Linked DNA regions of Homo sapiens. The protein of the gene in region 1 purifies or fractionates together with the protein of each later gene. This does not show direct contact. Each region holds a gene or a part of one and is shown in the gene's direction. Other genes may lie near its edges.

What was found.
Region 2: the proteins of LRRC27 (region 1) and ZNG1A purify together in Homo sapiens (affinity purification with mass spectrometry; one large-scale study listed by BioGRID and IntAct). This does not show direct contact.
Region 3: the proteins of LRRC27 (region 1) and WDR19 purify together in Homo sapiens (affinity purification with mass spectrometry; one large-scale study listed by BioGRID and IntAct). This does not show direct contact.
Region 4: the proteins of LRRC27 (region 1) and IFT52 purify together in Homo sapiens (affinity purification with mass spectrometry; 2 studies listed by BioGRID and IntAct, with this or other methods). This does not show direct contact.
Region 5: the proteins of LRRC27 (region 1) and AP1M2 purify together in Homo sapiens (co-immunoprecipitation; one large-scale study listed by IntAct). This does not show direct contact.
Region 6: the proteins of LRRC27 (region 1) and BBS7 purify together in Homo sapiens (affinity purification with mass spectrometry; 2 studies listed by BioGRID and IntAct, with this or other methods). This does not show direct contact.
Region 7: the proteins of LRRC27 (region 1) and KLHL12 purify together in Homo sapiens (co-immunoprecipitation; one large-scale study listed by IntAct). This does not show direct contact.

Annotation. Positions count from the first base shown.
Region 1 is NC_000010.11:132,379,601-132,382,008, forward strand, and holds the end of LRRC27 (leucine-rich repeat-containing protein 27), read left to right. Parts: 3' UTR 1-1,908; downstream 1,909-2,408.
Region 2 is NC_000009.12:148,057-151,556, reverse strand, and holds part of ZNG1A (zinc-regulated GTPase metalloprotein activator 1A), read left to right. Parts: intron 1-129; exon of another isoform or gene 130-252; intron 253-831; coding exon of another isoform or gene 832-850; exon of another isoform or gene 851-3,500. UniProt on the Homo sapiens protein: Zinc chaperone that directly transfers zinc cofactor to target metalloproteins, thereby activating them.
Region 3 is NC_000004.12:39,227,529-39,231,028, forward strand, and holds part of WDR19 (WD repeat-containing protein 19), read left to right. Parts: intron 1-681; coding exon 682-829; intron 830-957; coding exon 958-1,162; intron 1,163-3,500. UniProt on the Homo sapiens protein: As component of the IFT complex A (IFT-A), a complex required for retrograde ciliary transport and entry into cilia of G protein-coupled receptors (GPCRs), it is involved in cilia function and/or assembly.
Region 4 is NC_000020.11:43,639,437-43,642,936, forward strand, and holds part of IFT52 (intraflagellar transport protein 52 homolog), read left to right. Parts: intron 1-3,042; coding exon 3,043-3,188; intron 3,189-3,500. UniProt on the Homo sapiens protein: Involved in ciliogenesis as part of a complex involved in intraflagellar transport (IFT), the bi-directional movement of particles required for the assembly, maintenance and functioning of primary cilia. Required for the anterograde transport of IFT88.
Region 5 is NC_000019.10:10,574,742-10,577,312, reverse strand, and holds part of AP1M2 (AP-1 complex subunit mu-2), read left to right. Parts: coding exon 1-115; intron 116-2,283; coding exon 2,284-2,409; intron 2,410-2,571. UniProt on the Homo sapiens protein: Subunit of clathrin-associated adaptor protein complex 1 that plays a role in protein sorting in the trans-Golgi network (TGN) and endosomes.
Region 6 is NC_000004.12:121,853,475-121,856,974, reverse strand, and holds part of BBS7 (BBSome complex member BBS7), read left to right. Parts: intron 1-1,413; coding exon 1,414-1,486; coding exon of another isoform or gene 1,487-1,531; intron 1,532-2,151; coding exon of another isoform or gene 2,152-2,154; coding exon 2,155-2,271; intron 2,272-3,500.
Region 7 is NC_000001.11:202,920,735-202,924,234, reverse strand, and holds part of KLHL12 (kelch-like protein 12), read left to right. Parts: intron 1-3,500. UniProt on the Homo sapiens protein: Substrate-specific adapter of a BCR (BTB-CUL3-RBX1) E3 ubiquitin ligase complex that acts as a negative regulator of Wnt signaling pathway and ER-Golgi transport.

The DNA of each region.
Region 1 (2,408 bases):
TTTTAAATTTCAGATGTTGTGTTTTTCAGGTCTAAGGTGTCTGGTAATTTTTTGTGGATGCCGATTCTCTGTTGAAATTCTCCATCTTTTCATTTCCTTTATATCTCTTTTCTTCTTTTTTCTATAATATATTACATTTTTCTAATAAGTTTTTAGTGAGTGTCCAGCATTGTATAAGTTGACCCTTGAACAAGAGTTTGAATTATAAGGGTCCACTTATAAGTGGATTTTTAAAAAAATATATATTGCAAAAATTTTTGGAAATTTGCAACAATTTGAAAAACTTTGCAGATGAGCCACATAGCCTAGAAATATCTGAAAAAAGAAAAAGTTATGTCATGAATGCATAAAATATACAGACCATACATGGACCATTCACAGTAGAGAGAAATGTCGCCGTAAAGATGCAGCATTGGCCGAGTGCAGTGGCTCACGCCTGTAATCCCAGCACTTTGGGAGGCCGAGGTGGGCAGATCACCTAAGGTCAGGAGTTCAAGACCAGCCTGGCCAACATGGAGAAACCCCGTGACTACTAAAAATAAAAAATTAGCCAGGCATGGTGGCACATGCCTGTAACTCCAGCTACTTGGGAGGCTGAGGCAGGAGAATCACTTGAACCCGGAAGGCAGAGGTTGCAGTGAGCCGAGATCACGCCATTGCACTCCAGCCTGGGCAACAAGAGCAAAACTCTGTCTCAAAAAAAAAAAAATGCAGCATTAAATTATAACTGCATGAAATTAACTGCAGTCCACAGTGTGCTGCTGGAATAATTACAAAGCCACCTCCTGTTGCTATTGCAGTGAGCGCAAGCATGTCAAGGATCCGCTTAAAACATCGTGTGGTGCTAATCTCTGCACGAGCGGTTCATGTCTTCAGTACATTGTGTATCACGGTAAAAAGTGATCTGTTTTAACTGGACATGGTGGCACACGCCTGCAGTCCCAGCTACTCAGGAGGCTGAGGCAGGAGGATCCCTTGAGCCCAGGAGGTCGAGGCTGCAGTGAGCTGTGATTGCACCACTGCACTCAAGCCTGGGCAACAGAGTGAGACCCCAACTTGAAAAAAAGGGGACATCGGGATGTTCTTGTGTATTTTTCATGTTGAGCGCAATACTGTAAACCTTGAAGAACACTTTGGGACCCATAGAGTGCCACCAGTCATGCCAAAGAGCTCCTGAGAAGCAGAGAAAAGTCATGACATTTCAAGAAAAAGTTGAATTTCTTGATATGTTCCGTAGATTGAGGTTTACAGCTGCGGTTGCCTACCAATTCAAGATAAATGAATCCAGCGTAAGGACCATAGTAAAAAAATAAGGAAATTTGTGAGCAGGCACAAAAGCCTTAACACTTTCTGTGAAATACCTTTTTATCTTGTATTGGGAATGCAGCTTTTATGTGGGTATAGGATTGCTGTGTGTGATGGTTCATATTAAATGTCAACTTGATTAGATTGAAGAATGTAAAGTATTGTTTCTGGGTGTTGCCAGAAGAGATTAACATTTGAGTCAGTGGACTGGGAGAAGACCCACCACAGTGTGGGCAGGCACCATCCAGTCGGCTGCCAGCATGGCTGGAAAAAGCAGGCAGAAGAAGGTGGCTGAAGCTGACTGGCTGAGTCTTCTGGCCTTCATCTCTCTCCCATGCTGGATGCTTCCTGCCCTTGAACATCAGACTCCAAGTTCTTTAGCTTTTGGACTCTTGGACCTACACTGGTGTTTTGCCAGGGGCTCTCGGGCCTTCGGCCACAGACTGAAGGCTGCACTGTCGGCTTCCCTCCTTTAGAGGTTTGGGGACTCAGACTGAGCTACTACTGGCTTCCTTGCCCCTCAGTTTGCAGACAGCCTATTGTGGGACTTCACCCTGTGATCCTGTGCCTCAGTTCTCCTTAATAAACTCCATTTCATATGTATATATATCCTATTCTGTCCTTCTAGAGAATACTTACTAATACACTGAGAAAGGTGTACCTGTAGTCTCTTCAAACAAAAGGAAGGGGAAGGAACTGAAGCTGGAGAATCTAATCCCAGCAAAGGATGGTTTGATAATTTTAGAAAGAGGCTTGGCTGGAAAAATGTCAAGATAACAGGAGAAGCAGCTTCTGTCGGCCAAGGGGCAGCAGACAAGTTCCTGGATACGGAAACCATGAAGAAAGTCACTGAGGAGAAAGAGGAGAAAGGATATCTGCCTGAACATGTTTTTAATGCAGACATAAGTCCCCTATTCTGAAAAAAAAAAAAAAAATGCCACAGGCATGAATTAGGAAGACAAGCAAGTACCAGAATTTAGGGCAGGAGGGGAGAGGCCAGCTCTGCTGTTCTGTGCAAACACAGTCAGATTATGATCAGGACTGCCCTTATCTAGAAAGCTGCTAACCGCTGAGCTTAAAAGGAAAAGAAAAACACCATCTTC
Region 2 (3,500 bases), on another chromosome or scaffold:
TGTGAAGTGTATTTCTGTAGATTAAATTCTGTTTTCCATTGAATGTTATCTTAATTTCAGAAAATTTCTGTGCAGGGTTATTTTATTAAGCTCATTTTTTTTTTTTTTTTTTTTTTTTTGGTGAGAAAGGCTCAGCAGCTAATAGACTCAGCAACAGGCAGCCAGGAGCTCTGAGGCTCACAGCTGGCAGTCTAGTTCCACTCAGTCTCTACTGGAGAAATTCTTTCTTTGGAAGTACAGCAGAGGCCTTAGGTGAGTGGCTTGTCTGCTATGGCAGAGATTAGAGGTGCTGCCAGACTGCCATAAGTGTTAGGCAGTAACAGCAGCAGCTGCTTATATGCATGTGAACAGCTGGGGAATTAATTTGGTATGCATTCTCAGGAGCCACTCATCTGCTGGCAGAGGTAGCAGAAGAATGCCCTTAGTGTAAGTCCTCTACAACCATACACCAAATGTGCTCCCTGCATTTCAAATTCCATTGTAGAAAGTCTCTGATAATCTCACTTATACTATGAGCCATTCCTCAGTATCTGTCCTCTTCCTGTTAGTGTTCTACAATTCCTTTCTCCTTAATTTTTCTCCGCTTTACAAAATGTCACACAGACAAGTGCATAATACTTAAACAAGCTTTTAAAAATAATGCTCATAAATAGCTTTGGTTCTGTCATAATATTCGTATTTATAAACATTTTAAGTCAATTCTCTTCTTTTGTTTTCATTTCAGAAATATCCATGTCCTGAATAAAAGTTGTGTCTTGATTAGTTTATTATGTAACAATTTAGTGTGTTTGACATTTCTAACTTTTATTTCTAACATTTGCTTTATTATAGAACAATAAACATGCAGTGATTGATTTTTCTTACTTCAAGTGGATGAGTGAGCAAGTGACTAAAATCTTCTGTGAATTATTCAGTGTATGGTGCTTGCCAGTGCATCTGAGAATCTAGGGACTTTCTGAAATAGTACTTCCTTGCTATGAGGACTGAAGTTGCATTAGAATCCTTTTCAATGAAGATCAGATGTCCTGAGTACAATTCTTACTATTGGGTCCTGAATCTTACATTAAATATTCTCTCAAATTCCTTGAGGCATAGCAACTTGAGCTTACCAGTTTAGAAACTGGAGATTTGGGCTGGGCGCGGTGGCTCACGCCTGTAATCCCAGCACTTTGGGAGGCCAAGGTGGGTGGATCACGAGGTCAGGAGATGGAGACCATCCTGGCTAACACTGTGAAACCCCGTCTCTACTGAAAATACAAAAAATTAGCTGAGCCTGGTGGTGGGCGCCTGTAGTCCCAGCTACTCAGGAGGCTGAGGCAGGAGAATGGCGTGAACCCGGGAGGCGGAGCTTGCAGTGAGCTGAGATCGCACCACTGCACTCCAGCCTGGGTGACAGAGCGAGACTCTGTCTCAAAAAAAAAAAAAAAAAAAAAAACAAAACCGGAGATTTGGTTAACAAAATAGTCAAAGTCACTCTTATAGAAGTTTTGTTTTATTTTTTGTTTAAAATTTTTTTACCATTTTGTAGCTGACAAGTACTGACAATAAACTGCTATAAGCATGTGTAGAAAAAGGCTCACCTTGAGTAGTTAAGAGTAAGGAAAAGGAATAGTGTGTAGCATCGTCTTAGTGGTAAGACTTAAGTTGATTTAGTAGCAAATGGAAGTACTAGTGAACCACATAGATTTCAGAAGTAGGAGTAAAAGGTTAGAAGATGTGTCATTTTAATCTTCTCTAGACTTTTTCTTAATTTTTAGAAATGTAAGTGGACTGAACAGAGGAAAACCAAAACACAGCTGGTCAATAATAAGTTAAATTAATTTGACAAACTGCCTACTATGCATTTCATAGCATTTTAAGGACTATATAAGCAATGGATAAGGCAAAAACTCTGCCTTTAAGGAGATCAGTCATTGGGGGGAAACAGAAGCAAACAAACAAAAAGGCAACATAATAGATATTAATATTAATACAAGAATTTTAAAAGCACAGAGTTCTATAATAATAGGAAAATAGAGGGAATGATTGCTCAACTTTTCTTGAAAAAGAGTCAGGAAAATATTGACCGAGAAGACAGTCATTGACCTGAGTCTTAAAGAATGAATAAGGCTTTTACAGATGGAGTAGGGTAGGGATAACTTTCCAGGTATAAGGAAGATTTTGTATTCCAGGGACCTTTGAATTTTTTAGAATGGCTAGAAAACTTGGTATTATGTAGCACAGAAAAAGTGGTATGACTGAAGAGATAGAGAACTTACCACAAAGGGTCTTGAATGCCATGATACATAGTTTGGATTTTCTTCTGTAGGGAGCAAGGAGTTAGTGAAGGATTTTAAAAGCAACATGCCTCTTGGGAGGTAGATTCAATGTGAGGCTAATCTCCGAGGTATAGGAAATACAGGAAGGAGGAGCAACAGGTCGGGTAGTGGTGGAAGCAGGTTTGGAAAATGTGATTAGTTTTGTAAGCGTTTTTGAGTTTGAAGTGCCACTGGGGAAGGCTTTTGGAAATTTATTTCCAGAGTTCAAGACTGAGCTATCATTGCAGTTTGCTCAGCTATTTACTGAGCTATCTACTGTCAATTTGGATAGTATCTACAGTTTGCATTGTAGATACTGGATACTTGGATTGGCTGGTGCACCCTGTTTGTGAGACTCACTGGAGTTTGAAGAGATGACCACTGGAAAATATCCCTAAGCAGTAGCTGCAATTCCACCCCCACCTTGGAGAGCCAAAACCCTCTTCATTTTCACTCTCCTGTCCTTGGTCTTAGGCTACTTAAAGCAGCCTTTAGACATAGGGAAAAATTGAAAGCCTCTCTTTTAAGAAAAACATTAGGTACTTCTGGAATAGAGAGTTCAAGAAATTAGGAGAAAAATGAACTTTTGAAGCTTTTTCTTTCCCTTTTTTGTTTACTTCATTCTCTTACTCAGTTTTAAAATGCTGGTAATGGTCTTTTTTTTCTTTTTTTTTTTTTCTTGGCGATTTTAATGCTTTGGAAAAGATCTCATGGTTTTATCTCCAAAGGAGGAAATTAATTTGATGCCATGGAAATTAGTTTTCTAGTCGTATGCCTTGAATGAGTGAAGAATTTGTTTTTCATGGTGGTACTAAATTTGGGGAAAGCTATAGAAACTTTCATCTGGAAGCTTACACTTTTCCTCTTTTTTGAAAATTTGGTGAGAGACTTGGATATTTTATTGTTTTCTGTAAAAGAGTGTAATTTGTTGTACAGGTCTAATATTGATCCTTTTTTGGAAGTATGGAAAGAATCTGAGTATAAAGCAGAATTACCTCTGGATGGCATGTATTCTCAAGGACACTGTCACAGTGAAACAGTTTATTTAGAAGCTTGTGTTTCCAAAGTGTTGAATTTGATATTCACAAAATTGGCATGTGTAAACTTTATTAAACTTTAAGCTATTTCCTAAGATGAAGATGACAAACTTGGAGGGAAACTTCATTCATTTGGTTTATTTTTATTTTTATTTTTATTTATTTT
Region 3 (3,500 bases), on another chromosome or scaffold:
TATGACAACTATTTACATAGCATTTATATTGTATTAGGTATTATAAGTAATCTAGAGATGATTTAAAGTATAAGGGAGGGTGTACATAGTTTATACACATATTACACCATTTTATTCAGGGATTTGGCCATCTGTGGGTTTTGCTATCCGTGGGAGATCCTGGAACCAATCCCTCATGGATGTTGAGGGATGATTGTATATTTATATTTGTTGACATGCATTTTAGAGAAGCTTTTGAAATAAAGTATCCCTAGTGTAATTTACTTCAATCATGTGAGTTAATTTGTTTCTTAATACCCACTATTATCAAATACTCAGTATTATTGAAAAATTTCTAAACACAAGTACAAGTGTGTTCGTAGTTTAAATTTCTGTCATCCTGAGCAGCTTTAATTTTTTTTCCTTAACCTGAAGCTTTGTGTCTAGACTTGTGGGTTCTCCTACAAATTTGCCAGATTTTAGATCAAACCTTGGCTTTTCCAAATAACTATAGTTTTTTCAAGCCAGACCTAGGATAGGAATGGAAAAAGAAACTTTCTTTCCTGTTGTTGTTGGAGTGATGTTAGGTTGAATATGACTCAGTAAGCTAAGCCAGCTAAGGCTGCAAACAGGCTTCTACCACGGCAAATGATAATGATTCAAGTACAGACTTGGGGCAAATCTGTAAATTTTATTTTGTAGGTCAATGACGCTACCTATGAGATTCCAGATTTTTCACCAACCATTAAAGGTGTTCTTTGGGAAAACTGGCCAATGGATAAAGGTGTATTTATTGCTTATGATGATGATAAGGTGTACACTTATGTCTTTCACAAGGACACTATACAAGGTACTAAACCCCTTTTGTGTATATTCGCTGACAGATGAATTTCCCATTGCAGTAAAATTAAAACATTCTTTCTGATGTTTGTGCTGAGTATTAGCTTTCAGCATTGCGATGTCTGTTTTATAATGTAGGAGCCAAGGTTATTTTGGCTGGTAGCACCAAAGTTCCTTTTGCTCATAAACCTTTGCTGCTATATAATGGAGAGCTGACCTGCCAAACACAGAGTGGAAAAGTAAACAACATCTACCTTAGCACCCATGGCTTTCTCAGCAACTTAAAAGATACGGGGCCTGACGAACTGAGACCAATGCTGGCACAGAATTTAATGCTAAAGAGGTAGGCTTTCACACACTTCTTTTGGAACTTCTCATTTGCTTTTGTGATTTTAAAGGTCAAATCCTATAATTATTCTATCTTATTTTATTGCTTTATTCTTTATCCTTGCAAGAATTTTTTTTTTTTTTGTAAATGTAGAAGTACAAGTGCAGTTGTGCTACATGGATATAGTGCATATGGTGAAGTCTGGGCTTTTAATGTACCCATCACCAGAATAGTGAACACTGTACCCAGTGGGTAGTATTTTATCCCTCAACCCTGTCTCACCATCCCGCCTTTTGGAGTTGCCAGTATCTATTATTCCACCTGTATGTCCATGTGTACCCATTGTTTACCTCCCACTTCTAAGTGAGAACATGCAGTTTTTGACTTTGGGGCATTTCACTTAGGATAATGACCTCGAATTCCATCCATATTGCTGCAAAAGACATGATTTCATTTTTTTAATGGCTGAGTAGTATTCCATAGTGTGTATATCTATATATACACACCACTTTTTAAAATCCAGTCATCTGTTGATGGACACTTAAGTTGATTCCATGACTTTGCTATTGTGAATAGTGCTGCAGTAAACATATGAGTGCAGGTGTCTTTTTGATAAAATGTCAAATCCTATTCAATAGATGGAGATAACAGCACTTACCTTGTTCATTTCACAGGGATATTGTGAGGCTCAGATAAGATAGTCAGCTGTTTTTATTATGAGTACTTTATTACAAGAAAAGCCCTTAAGAACAAAACGGTTTCTAAGCTTCCAGAGAGCCTAGTTATTGGGAAATCCTAATAAAATAAACCTAATTATTTCAACAATATCTTGACTTCATCATAGTGAGGTTTGATTTTGCTTTGCTTATAATTTCCTTTTACTGTTTTTTTCTCTTATCTCCTAGAGCCACCGTGAATTCCTTTGACGTTCTAATTCTTCCGAGCCTCTCTTAAATGCTGCTGTTTATTGGGGTCTCATGAGTTTCCTTCTCTTCTTACTCTAATTATTCTTCCTGAGTGAATCTCCTCTGCTTAACATGGCTCAACATACCACCCATATGAAGCTGACTCTAAAATCTGTGTCTTTATCTTAAACCTGTACTTACAACTACCTTCCAGTCATGTGTCCTTGGAAGTCCATGAGCTCTTCAAACTTGCCCTTTCTAAAACTGAACTCATCAATTTCCACAGGCCCCTATTTTCCCTCACTGTAATCACACATGCACATGCCTTAACACACATATACACCAGCTCCTTTCCTCCTCCCGTGTTCCCTCATCTTTACCCAGGCCCTCACCTGGAATAATGTGTAATGTAACTAACCACTTCCTAACTGCTCTGTCTGCCAATAGCCTTGTAACGATCTCATCTGTTCTCCACACACTTTTGAAGATGTGATTTGATCCTCTTATTTCCCTGCTCAGGATCCTTCAGTGACTTTCTATTGCCTTTACAAACAAATCCATTCCTGGGGGACCTCTATGACCTACTAGGCACTTCATGATTTAACACCAGCTCAACTGTCTCCACTCAAGTCCCTCTCTGTTCCACTGGCTGCTGAAATTGCATATATTTCATGATTCTTCCTGGAATGCCCTTTCCCTGCTCTGAATGTAGTAACCCCTCTTTCTTTACCCATCAGCGATAAGTGGAGCCATCTCCTGCTCCAGGAAGCCTTCCCCGACTTCCCCACCACCACAGGCAGTCCTGCTTGGGGTCTTTCTGATGTGTTGCCTCAGAGCCAGGATGCAGTATACACAGTGGTGAAGAGCATGACACCACTTACCTCTGTGTGCCTTGGGCTAGTCTTTTGACGTCTCTAAGCCTCATTTTCCTAATCTATAAAGGAGACATAATAATAATACTTAGTGGGTAGGGTTATTAGGGTAAGAGAATTTATGCAAAAGACTTAGCACAAAGAGTTACCTATTGTAAGTACTCAGTTACCTCTGTCAAACTATGCTATAGTCATTTGTTTCCTTATCTGTCTCTTCCACCTTCCCCAATTGTGACTGCCTTAAGGACAGCAACTGTGGTTGATTTTTGTATCATGTTTCCAAGCATGTAACGAGTTCAGTAAATGTGTGTTGGATGAAAAAATGGATAGGTGAATAGATAAATGGATGAATGAATAGATAGATGGATGTAATATATTCACTCATGTAGAGGTTCCACAAAAAGTTTAATTGGCATTTATGTTCATGTTTTAAACCAGAGGTCGGAAAACCTTTTGTGTTAAGGTCCAAATGGCAAATATTTCAAGCTTTACGGGCCATAGGGTCTCTATCGCAGCTACTCAGTCTGGCTGTTGTAGCAGGAAAGTGGCCACAGACAATCCATTAAAGAGTGGGCT
Region 4 (3,500 bases), on another chromosome or scaffold:
AAGGTGGGCAGATCACCTGAGGTTGGGAGTTCAAGACCAGCCTGACCAACATGGAGAAACCCCTTCTCTACTAAAAATACAAAATTAGCTGGGTGTGGTGGCGCATGCCTGTAATCCCAGCTACTGGGGAGGCTGAGGCAGGAGAATCGCTTGAACCCAGGAGTTGGAAGTTGCGGTGAGCCGAGATCGTGTCATTGCACTCCAGCCTGGGCAACAAGAGCGAAACTCCATCTAAAAAAAAAAATTTTTTTAAGTAGCCAGGTGCGGTGACGCATTTCTATATTCCTAGCTACTTGGAAGGCTGAGGTGGGAGGATCACTTGGGCCCAAGAGTTGGAGGCTGCAGTGAGCTATGATACACCTTGCACTCCAGCCTGGGTGACAAAGGACCCTGTTTCTGAAAAATAAATAAATAGAAACAAAATAGAATATTACATACCTGTTAAAAGAAAAATGTAGCCTGGGTGCGATGGCTCACACCTATAATCCCAGCACTTTAGGAGGCTGAGGCAAGAGGATCACTTGAGACCAGCCTGGGCAACACTGTGAGACCTCTTCTCTATAGAAGAATAAACAAAATTAGCCGGGCATGGTGGCTCACTCCTGTAGTACCAGCTACTCAGGAGGCCCAGGTGGGAGGATTGCTTGAGCCTAGGAAGTCAAGGCTGCAGTGAGCTAAGATTGTGCCACTGTCCTCTAACCTGGTTGACAGAGCGAGACCCTGTCTCAGAAAAGAAAAGGCCAGGCGCAGTGGCTCATGCCTGTAATCCCAGCACTTTGGGAGGCCGAGGCAGGTGGATCACAAGGTCAGGAGTTTGAGACCAGCCTGGCCAAGATGGTAAAACCCTGTCTCTACTAAAAATAAAAATAAAAAATTAGCCAGGCATGGTGGCAGGTGCCTGTAATCCCAGCTGCTTGGGAGGCTGAGGCAGGAGAATTGCTTGAATTCGGGAGGTGGAGGTTGCAGTAAGCCAAGATCACGCCACTGTACTCCAGTCTGGGTGACAGAGTGGGACTCCATCTGAAAAAACAAAAAAGAAAATAAAAAAAATGCAGGGCATAAACTTTGATTCGGAATGTCCATAATACATCATTAAATGATGAAGTCAACTTAGAAAACTATTCTAGTTTGATCCCATTTTTGTGAAAACTTACATTTACACACAGAAGCATACATAGCAATAATAATTCTAGGTAGTTGGTGGCAGTAGAACTAGGATGAAACATTGATACAGCTGTGGGTTTGAATGTCTTAGTAAAAAACATACATTTCTATCAAAACTTAAAATGCAAATCAGAGGGAGAATAAATTAATTACAGCTGGGCTCAGTGGCTCATGCCTATAAGCCCAGCACTTTGGGAGGCCAAAGCAGGTGGATTGCTGGAGCTCACGAGTTCGAGACCAGCTTGGGCGACATGGTGAAACCCCGTCTCAAATACAAAAAATCAGCCAGGCGTGGTGGTACACACCTGTAGTCCAAGCTACTTGGGAGGCTGAGGTGGGAGGATGGTTTGAGCCCAGGAGGCAGAAGTTGCAGTGAGCTGAAATCATGCCACTGCACTCCAGCCTGGGTGATAGAGCCAAACCTTGTCTCAAAAAAAAAAAAAAAAAAAAAAAAGGAAGAAAGAAATTACAGTATAATGTGAGAAGGGCAGTAATGGCTGTCTATCCTACATGTAGGGCTCCAGAGGATGGCTTCACAGAGCTATGTTGTTGGTGGAATTATGGGTGATTTTTTTCTTTAATTTTCTTTCTATAATATTGTTTGTTTTTTGGGGTTTTGTTTTGTTTTGTTTTGTTTTGAGACCTAATTTTGCTCTTGTTGCCCAGGCTGGAGTGCAGTGGCACGATCTTGGCTCACCACAGCCTCAGCTCACTGCAACCTCTGCCTCCCGGGTTCAAGCGATTCTCCTGCCTCAGCCTTCCTGAGTAGCTGGGATTATAGGCATGCACCACCACGCCCGGCTAATTTTGTATTTTTAGTAGAGATAGGGTTTCTCCATGTTGGTCAGGCTGGTCTCGAACTCCCGGCCTCAGATGATCCACCTGCCTCAGCCTCCCAAAGTGCTGGGATTACAGATGTGAGCCACCACGTCCCCCAGGCTGGAGTGCAATGGCGTGATCTCAGCTCACTGCAACCTCCGCCTCCCAGGGTTAAGCAATTCTCCTACCTCAGCCTCCCGAGTAGCTGGGATTACAGGTGCGCACCACCATGCCCGGCTAATTTTTTTGTATTTTTAGTAGAGACAGGGTTTCACCATGCTGGCCAGGCTGGTCTCGAACTCCTGACCTCGTGATCCGCTCACCTTGGCCTCCCAAAGTGCTGGGATTACAGGCGTGAGCCTTCACGCTCGGCTGTTTTGTTTTGTTTTGTTTGAGATGGAGTCTGTTCTGTTGCCCGGGGTGGAGTGCAGTGGCGCAATCTCTGTTCACTGCAACCTCCATCTCCCCAGTTGAGGTGATTCTCCTGCCTCAGCCTCCCGAGTAGCTGGGATTACAGGCCTGCATCACCACATCTGGCTAATTTTTGTATTTTTAGTAGAGATGGGGTTTTGCCATGTTGGCCAGGCTGATCTTGAACACCTGACCTCAAGTGATCTACCTGCTTCAGCCTTCCAAATTGCTGGGATTACAGGCATGAGCCACCACGCCCAGCCAATACAATATTGTTTTAGTAAATGCTATTTTTAATTACCCATATGCTTCTCTATAGTCATCTTTGTTGCATTCAGGGAATGATAATTTGATTTCCTACTGTTGCACCTGTTCTTTCTAATGTAGGAATACTAGATCTGAGGAATAGGAAAGCCAGTACCAGTCCAGTTTTATTCTGATTAGGAGTGCTTTTATTATAAAAGCAGCACATTAGAGAGCTCTAGGGTTTTTCAGTGTTGAAATCCTGTAGTCACATTACTTTAGGAAGAGGTGAGTGATCTTAGGAAATGTGGAAACATGACAGGGCATACCTGAAACACACTAAGTCTGTACTTTGGGAAGGGCAGAAGTTAAGAATTAATCTAACTACTACTCCAACTGTCTTAGGTACTGAAGAAGACCTGGAATTTTATGTCAGGAAGTGTGGTGATATTCTTGGAGTAACCAGTAAACTACCAAAGGACCAACAGGATGCCAAACATATCCTTGAGCACGTCTTCTTCCAAGTGGTGGAGTTCAAGAAATTGAACCAGGTACAGAGCCTACAAGGCACAGTGTAGTGGGAGCCCCTCCAGTACTGGTATCTTCCATGGACTGTGCTTGCCATGTTTTATGACGTTGATTCAGCCTGTAAATATTTATTAAGCATCTACTAGGTGAACAAAACAGACAATAAACCCTGTACTTATGGAACCTATATACTAGCTGGAGGATGTAGACAATAAGCAGTAAACATAAGTGAGTCACATAGGATGCTAGAAAATGGTAAGTGCTTTGGTATAAAAGAAGTGGAGGCTGGGCGCAGTGGCTCACGCCTGTAATCCCAACACTTTGGGAGGCTGAGG
Region 5 (2,571 bases), on another chromosome or scaffold:
GATATCTGTGCCTGTACCCAGCGATGCCGACTCCCCCAGATTCAAGACCAGTGTGGGCAGCGCCAAGTATGTGCCGGAGAGAAACGTCGTGATTTGGAGTATTAAGTCTTTCCCGGTAAGTACCAGGGACTGGCGGGGGATCTGGGGGTGGAGGGGACTGGAGTAGTGTGGGGGCTGCCCAGGAGCCATGAGAACAAGGCAGAGAACAAATCAGAGACCCAGTCAGGTGTGATGGCTCATGACTGGAATGCCAGTACTTTGAGAGGCTGACACGGGCAGATCGCTTGAACCCAGGAGCTGGAGACCAGCCTGGGGAACACAGTGAGACCCTGCCTCTATAAAAATATTAAGAGGAGCTGGGCGCAGTGGCTCACGCCTGAAATCCCAGCCTGGCTAACATAGAGACGGCTAACATCCGTCTCTAGTAAAAGTACAAAAATTAGCTGGGTGTGGTGGCGCATGCCTGTAATCCCAGCCACTCGGGACACTGAGGCAGGAGAATTGCTTGAACCCGGGAGGCAGAGGTTGCAGTGAGCTGAGATTGTGCCACTGCACACTCCAGCCTGGGCAACAGAACGAGACTCCGTCTCAAAAAAAAAAAAAAAAGATTAAAAGGCCAGACATGGTGGCTCATACCTGTAATCCCAGCACTTTGGGAGGCTGAAGCGGGCAGATCACCTGAGGTCAGAAGTTCAAGACCAGCCTGGCCAACATGGTGAAAACCCGTCTCTACTAAAAATACAAAAATTAGGGCAGGGCACGGTGGCTCACGCCTGTAATCCCAGCACTTTGGGAGGCCGAGGTGGGCGGATCACGAGGTCAGGAGATCGAGACCATCCTGGCTAACATGGTGAAACCCCATCTCTACTAAAAATACAAAAAATTAGCCGGGCGTGGTTGCAGGCGCCTGTAGTCCCAGCTATTTGGGAGGCTGAGGCAGGAGAATGGCCTGAACTCGGGAGGTGGAGCTTGCAGTGAGCAGAGATCACGCCACTGCACTCCAGCCTGGGTGACAGAGCGAGACTCCATTTCAAAAAAAAAAAAAAAAAAAAAATTAGCCGGGCATGGGGGTGTGCGCCTGTAGTACCAGCTACTCAGGAGGCTGAGGCAGGAGAATCACTTGAACCCGGGAGGCGGAGGTTGCAGTGAGTTGAGATCACGCCACCGCACTCCAGCCTGGGTGACAGAGTGAAACTCTGTCTCAAGAAAAAAAAAAAAACTTAGAAAAAAGAAATACAAGGCCAGGCGCAGTGGCTCACGCCTGTAATTCCCAGCACTTTGGGAGGCTGAGGCGGGCAGATTACGAGGTCAGGAGATCGAGACCATCCTGGCTAACACTGTGAAACCCCGTCTCTACTAAAAATACAAAAAAAAAAAAAATTAGCTGGGCGTGGTGGCGGGCGCCTGTAGTCCCAGCTACCGGGAGGCTGAGGCAGGAGAATGGCGTGAACCTGGGAGGCGGAGCTTGCAGTGAGCCAAGACCGCACCACTACACTCCAGCCTGGGCGACAGAGTAAGACTCCATCTCAAAAAAAAAAAAAAAGAAAAAAAAAGAAAAAAAAAGAAAAAAGAAATACAAGTAAATCAGAGAGGTACGTATGTATGCAAGTGATCAAGCTTGAAACCAGGCCAGTCTATTTCACAGACGTGTAAACTTCCATGACGGGAAGTGTGTGGATTTAAATATCCCCCTGCCAATGTCTTGAGGAAACCAGCCCTGGGTTCACCTTCCTCACTATTGCTTTGCTGAGCTGGGTGGGTTTGGGAAACCCATTTCCACTTAAGGAGGCTCAGTTTGCCTGTCTGTGAAATGGGCAGGATGAGGTGACCCACATCCCTTGGCTACTAGAGGTTTTGGTTTGTCCCCATGATCTTGGGAGAGGTGGATCATCAGTGCCTGTAAAACAGGACATGGTAGTTAAAAAAAGAAAAAAACCCTGATTGGGTTTTGCAGTCAGAATCTTCCCTGGTGAGTCTCTGTCACCCAGGTTGGGGTGCAGTGGTGAGATCATGGCTCACTGCAGCCTCAAACTCCCAGACTCAAGGGATCTTCCTGCCTCAGCCTCCCAAGTAGCTGAAACTGCAGGCATGTTCCACCGCACCCAGCTAATTTTTAAACTTTTTGTAGACATGGTATCTCAATATGTTGCCCAGGCTAAGGAGCCTTTATTTTCCTGTCTGTGAAATGGGCTGTGAGCAGATCTGACTCCAGGGGTTGCTGAAAGGAAGGTCTCGGGAGGGTAGGCGGACCCTCGTGTACCTGATGCCCCCATGTTCCCTCAGGGGGGCAAGGAGTACTTGATGCGAGCCCACTTTGGCCTCCCCAGTGTGGAAAAGGAAGAGGTGGAGGGCCGGCCCCCCATCGGGGTCAAGTTTGAGATCCCCTACTTCACCGTCTCTGGGATCCAGGTGAGAGAAGCAGGCAGGGAGGATCCTCCCCTTGACTTCGGTGGGTTCCCCTCTCTCCTGTCCCTTGGCTCGAGTCACCTCAGTCCCCTGGCCTGTGTCAACACTCCTCTGAAGGCTGCCTGGTCTTTCCCAGAGCAATGTTACCTTTATCTGCCCACAGCC
Region 6 (3,500 bases), on another chromosome or scaffold:
CAACATGGTGAAACTTTGTCTCTACTAAAAATACAAAACTTAGCCAGGCATGGTGGCCTGCACCTGTAATCCAGCTACTCGGGCAGCTGAGACAGGAGAATCACTTAAACCCGGAAGGTGGAGGTTGCAGCGAGCTGAGGTCACAGCATTGCATTTCAGCCTGGGCAACAAAGCAAGATTCCATCTCAAAAAAAAAAAAACATTAAAACAAAAATGTCATACCATATTAACTATAATTTTGCAAATTGTGTTTTCTTTTTTTTTTGAGATGGAGTCTTGCTCTGTCGCCCAGGCTGGAGTAGTGGTGCAATCTTGGCTCACTGCGACCTCTGCTTCCCGGGTTCAAGCAATTCTCCTCCTTTAGCCTCCTGAGTAGCTGGGATTACAGGCATGCACCACCACACCTGGCTAATTTTGTATTTTTAGTAGAGACGGTTTCACCATGTTGGTCAGGCTGGTCTTGAACTCCTGACCTGATGATCCACCCGTCTTGGCCTCCGGAAGTGCTGGGATTACAGGCATAAGCCACCACACCCCATTTTGCAAATTTTGTATTCATTGAATTATAGATCATGGATATTTTTTCCATGTGAGTATAAGTACTTCTAACTCATTCTTTAACAGCATCACAAATACTGTGCCCAAAATGACAAGCATTACAAGTAGCAAAATTGAAAAACTGATAAATATATAAGGACCTAACTTGTTTTTTTATCTAAGTAGCAGGTCATTCAGCCTCTGACTGGAGCAGATTTTGGGAATACCCAAAGGCAAGGCCAAAATTTTCCTTAGGAAGTAACTTTGTGTCTGTTAAAATATTTGGATGTATTCCAAGTTAAAGACTTCCAGTTAACCTAGAGAGGGCAGAGGGAATAATTTGTTCCTAGAGACTTGATAGGAAAATCTGCCAGTGTCAAGTTTTCAGGCAAACAATGTATTTAAAATGTATTAAAGGTAGAGAATATTTTAAATGTTTTCTTCTTGGTCTTTACATTTTATATATATATATATACACACATATATATGTACATATACATATACACATGTACATGTACACATATATACATATATACACATACATGTATGTACATATATGTACATATACATATATACACATACATGTGCATATATGTATACATATGTGTATATATGTATACATGTGTGTACATATCTGTATATATACGTATATATGTATACATTTATACGTATATATGTGTATATATGTTGTTTTCAAATCAGTTGATATATGCAAAATTGCTAACAAATGCAAGTTGTATTCGTAACCTAATTTTTAAAGCAATTTTATTCTAGGTGTTACTAAGAGTACTGTATTTGAATATTGATGTTATTCATGAATGCCTCTATTATTTTCAGTTTGTATTCTGTTTCAGTTTTTAAATACTTCTCCTTCAGGGATCTGATGTGATGTATGCAGTTGAAGTTCCTGGACCCCCTACTGTCTTAGCACTACACAATGGAAATGGCGGTAATCAGGATTTTATTTTTCACAAATCAACTATGTGTTTTAATAGTAAGTGAAAATGGGAAATTGTAGAAAGGACATAAACTAGAATTGAGACAGTTGTCTTTCTGGTAACTTGCCAGTAACTAACAGCACGAGTTATTGAACTTTTAATTCTCCGTTTTTTTCTTTTTTGGGGGGCTGGGGGGCAGGGTCTCACTCTGTCTCCCAGGCTGGCGTGCAGTGGTACAATCTCAGCTCACCACGGCCTCGACCTCCCAGGCTCAAGGGATCCTCCCACCTCAGCCTCCCTAGTACTACAGGCGCACACCACCATGCCCGGCTAGGTTTTTGGTATTTTTTATAGAGACAGGGTTTCGCCATGTTGCCCAGGTTAGTCTGGAACTCCTGGGCTCAAGGGATCCTCTCACCTCAGTCTCCCAAAGTGCTGGGATTACAGGCATGAGCCACGGCACCCAACCTAGTTTCTTCATCTTAAAATTATATAATGGGGAAATGTCTTATCTCTTATAGCTATAAAATTGTGTGAATATATAACCATTCTCAACAATTAAGTTTTATATCTTTTTATAGTACTTTTTAAAATGATATTTTTACATAACAACATTTTAATTTTAAAGAGATTACTAATTGTAGGATAAATATAATATGTTGACTTTAATTATAAGTAGGTGACTCTGGAGAAGACCTTTTGTTTGGGACATCAGACGGAAAACTTGCGCTTATACAGATTACTACATCCAAACCAGTACGCAAGTGGGAAATTCAAAATGAGAAAAAGAGAGGAGGTATGCTTTTCATGTAGTTCAGATTCTGAGGTGTCAATGATTATTAAGTATCTTAAATTATATAATTTATTCTATTTTATCTATTTATACTACATAGCAGACTTAGCAATTCACACCTTGATTTATCTACTATTTGTTTATTTGTCAGGTCTATTATACTATTGGCATAATTTTTTAAAAGTAAGAAATGCTGATAGTAATTTGGTATTGATACGTTTTTATAGGCTAATATCATTTTATGCTAAAATCCAATTTTAATTGGATTTTAATTGTCTGAGGTAATTTAGTTGTTTGAGGTACAGAATTAATTGGAATCTGGGAGTCTTTGTTATGAGGCAAAGAAGAAGTGCAGTGGGTCAGAGAATATTCCTGTTTTCTAAGGAATTTATACCTTTCTAAGGAGAATTTATAACTGATTAGGTAGATAGTGAGATGCCTATGTATATGTTCAGGATGTTCATATATTCATTTATTCCTTCAACAAATACTTATTAGGAGAGACAGAGTAAAAACAAATAAATACATAAGACAGCTTTACCTAGTCACCTGAAGAAAATAAAACAGGGCTGTGTATTAGAGAGTGATGGTAGAAGGAGGAGGGTCACTTTTAGACCACGTAGTCAAAGATAGCCTCTTAGAAGAGGTGAAATTTGAACTGAGATCTGATTGATAAGAAAAAGAGTTAGCAATATGAAGATTTGGGGAAAAAAATGTTTCAGGAAGAGGAAAAAGTAAGTGTGAAAGATTTGAGGTGGAGGTAGATTTGATTCATTTGAGGAACAGTAGGAAGGTCAGTCAGTTTGGCTAAATGCGTTAACATGGCAGGAGATGGAGTCAGAGAGGTAGAGTAGAGCCAAATTGTGTAAGCCTTGGAAAACAGTTTGAATTTTAATCTAGGTGCTGTAGGAAGTCATTAGAAAATTGTCAGTGGGAGTGTGACACTTAATTTACTAAGCCTAAACAAAACAAAGGACACTGGAGAATGGATTGGAGGGGGCGGGGGGCAACAGGTCAAAACTGGAAGCATGGAGACCAGTTAGAAGAGTTATTATAATTTATTCTAGTCTAGGCTAGCTTAGTCTAGGCTATCAGTAGCTGGAAACATAGACAATTTCAGTATATATTGTGGAGGTAGAGAAGATGGAATTTGCTAGCAGTTTTGATATGAGGGGTGGTGAGAAAAAGAAAGAAATCAGATGTGGCCCAGAATTTTTGTCTGAGCAGCTAGG
Region 7 (3,500 bases), on another chromosome or scaffold:
GGGAATTAGGAAAAGGTTGGCTTGAGAGAATACAGGTAGTGCTCACAAAGTATTAAGAAACACTACTTAGTAATTGCCTGACAAAATACTTGAAATGTATAGTAAGGCTGCTGAATATATTGTGTTGAATATTCTTAGAAAGCTGAACAGAAAATAACATTGCAAATCTTTGTTTTTCAAGATCCCAAGTCTCATTTTAAGAGCAGATTTAAATAAATTATCTTGATTTATTTTTTCAAAGCTCAGTTGTGGGTGCATCACTGTTTATTATATAATTTACACTTACATGTATGCCTGAAATATTTCATTATGAAAACACTGTTTTAAAAGTCTTTTTAAGCACAAGTTTTTTGTTTGTTTTTTGTTTTTTTTTTAGTTAGTTCTATCATCTTAGTGTAGATATTGCTGCTGAATCAGAATGGGAGAGGCGTATTCTGTGATGGTAATAACTACCTTTTATGGGCCAGGTACTGTGCTAGTAATTGTTGTGCATATCTGACTCACCCTAGGGGTAGGTATTACCATCTCATTTTACAAATGAAGGAATAGGGTTTCAGATATTAAATCACTTGCCCAAAGTCCCATGGCTTGTAAGTGCTAGAGGTGGGATTTCATTTTATATTTTCCAACTCTAAAGCCCAAACAGTTTGTAACTCTTGTGCCGCCTTAGCCTCCGAAGTATGAATTTTATATACTACAATCTAATTTTAAAACTGGTATAGTTAAAAATACTATGAGCCAATGCTCAGTCACATGGCTAGTAGGGAAAACAGGAACCTGACAGGTCATTCCAACTAATTCAGGCTAATTTTTAAATAAACTTGTGTGATATACCAAGGCAGATCCCTGTCCTATACTGTTCTCCATGAGATATACCCAAGATCATCAGAAGCATTTGGAATTTAACTGGGTAAAGAGAGTGTCACCCAGCAGCTGCTGAGCAAGAAATGAACTAGAACGGCTGATTGCTAATTATATGTTGTGCATCCTGTTTTTTGTCAGCTTGAAAATAGTGTCTTTACTCTTTTGTTATTTGGAAATGAATTCTTTTTTTCTCATCAGTGATGATTTCTTTCTTTAAAAACTGACATCAGGCAAGGAAATGCTAGATGGTTTTGTCTTTATTTTTGAGAGTAATTGTTCAAAGGAGAGAGTCCAGAGACCTGGATTCTAGGCTTAGTTCTCTTAGCAATTCTGTATAAACCCTGGGAACCATCTAACTTCACTGGGTTGATCTGTAAAATAAAGTAGTTGAACTAGATGGTTTCCTTGTTCTCTTCAGCTATGAAATGCTCCTCAAATGTCATCTGATTGAAAGATCACAAAGACTGAGGCAGGAGGACCTGGGTTTTGTCTCTCTCTCTCTCTCTTTTTTTTTTCCTGAAATACTTTAATAAGAATGATATCTGTCTCTTACTAGCTAAGTGACTGGTTAAGTCTTGGATCTTCAGCTGGGCGTGGTGGCTCACGCCTGTAATCCCAGCACTTTGGGAGGCCGAAGCAGGTGGATCACGAGGTCAGGAGATCAAGACCATCCTGGCTAACACGGTGAAACCCCGTCTCTACTAAAAATACAAAAAATTAGCCGTGCGTGGTGGCGGGCGCCTGTAGTCCCAGCCACTCGGGAGGCTGAGGCAGGAGAATGGCGTGAACCCGGGAGGCGGAGCTGGCAGTGAGCCCAGATCACGCCACTGCACTCCAGCCTGGGTGACAGAGCGAGACTCTGTCTCAAAAAAAAAAAAAAGTCTTGGATCTTCTTTGATCTTTAGACCCTTTATCGCTCTCTCTTTTTTTTTTTTTCCTTGACGCCTGGCTAATTTTTTGTATTTTTAGTGGAGACGGGGTTTCACCATGTTAGCCAGGATGGTCTCGATATCCTGACCTTGTGATCCACCCACCTCGGCCTCCCAAAGTGCTGGGATTACAGGCTTGAGCCATGTGCCCGGCCCCCCTTTATCTCTTAGATAGTAATAATATCAGACCTAACTACCTTACCAGGTTGCTGTGAGAATCAGATGAAATAGTAGTAAATGAGAAGCATGCTGAAAAATTCTAAAGCAAAATATAACTGTAAAATGTATAATTGCTCTAAGTTCTTACATAGTGAAATTGTTTCCATATTTAAACTATTTGATGGAAATGTAGTTTATTGAATGAGAAATTTCTGGAATACATGTACTTACATATTTCAGTACCATAATTATTAAATGCATTTAATGTGTTGGGATAGTAATTGTTTATGAATATTAGTACTGTATTAAATGTTAATAAAACCTAATATGTTTTTTCAAAATAATGTGCTAGTGACTTTTTTAGTGTTAGGGATTGATTTTGTTCTTGGCTTTGGTAGAGAGTGCTTTTTGGTTATTCTCTGGCTGATGGAGAAATAAAAAACGTTAAAGCCATTTAGTTAATAATGGAGATGCACCAGAGTTTTTTAAGTAAAATGAATTTCTAAACTAAGATTAAGATCTAGTAAAATTTTCATAAGGTATTTTCAGATAGTTTCCTGTAAAATTGAAGATTTCTTCTCTTAGCTAAACAGTTTTCTATGATTATCTGGCCTCATCAATACTCATAGCTTCAAGAAGATATACTACTAACAATTTAGACTAAATATACTGCTAACAATTCAGTTAGTCTAACCCAATATTTTGAAAAAGTAACAAATAATTTATTTGTATTCAGATGATGTTACATAAGAAAGTCCCTTAGGATGACCTGCATGTTCTTTTTCGTCATTACTAAATGCAGTCTAAGGGCCGGGCATGGTGGCTCACGCCTGTAATCCCAGCATTTTGAGAGGCTGAGGTGGGCAGATCACTTGAGGTCAGGAGTTCAAGACCAGCCTGGCCAACATGGTGAAACCCCATCTCTACTAAAAACACAAAAATTAGCCAGGCATGGTGGCATGTGCCTGTAGTCCCAGCTACTCAGGCGGCTGAGGCAGGAGAATCGCTTGAACCTGGGAGGTGGAGCTTGAAGTGAGCCAAGATTACGCCACTGCACTCCAGCCTGGGCAACAGAGCAAGACTGTGTCAAAAAAAAAAAAAAAAATTAGCTGGTTGTAGTGGTGTACTCCTGTAATCCCAGCTACTTGGGAGGCTGAGGCACGAGAAACACTTGAACCTGGGAGGCAGAGGTTGCAGTGAGCTGAGATCACACCACTGCACTCCAGCCTGGGGAACAGAGCAAGACCCTATCTCAACAAAGGGGAAAAAAAAGTAGTCTAAGGACAGATGATAGGAACTAGGTAGTCCTGGAGAGACTGGAGTTATAACCCACAGGCTCCTCTACGAACATGAAATTTCTTTGAAATATTGTGTCTTATCTTAAAAGTTCACGGACCAGTGTTATGTTCATGGAACTTTTGCATTCTATTCTGTAAATACATCTGTATTTTAATATGAAATAGATTTTTAAAGTTATTCACTGGCAAAATTACTATTCCAGGAAGGTGTTACCTATTACTTATTCCTGGCGTATAGATAACTACCTAC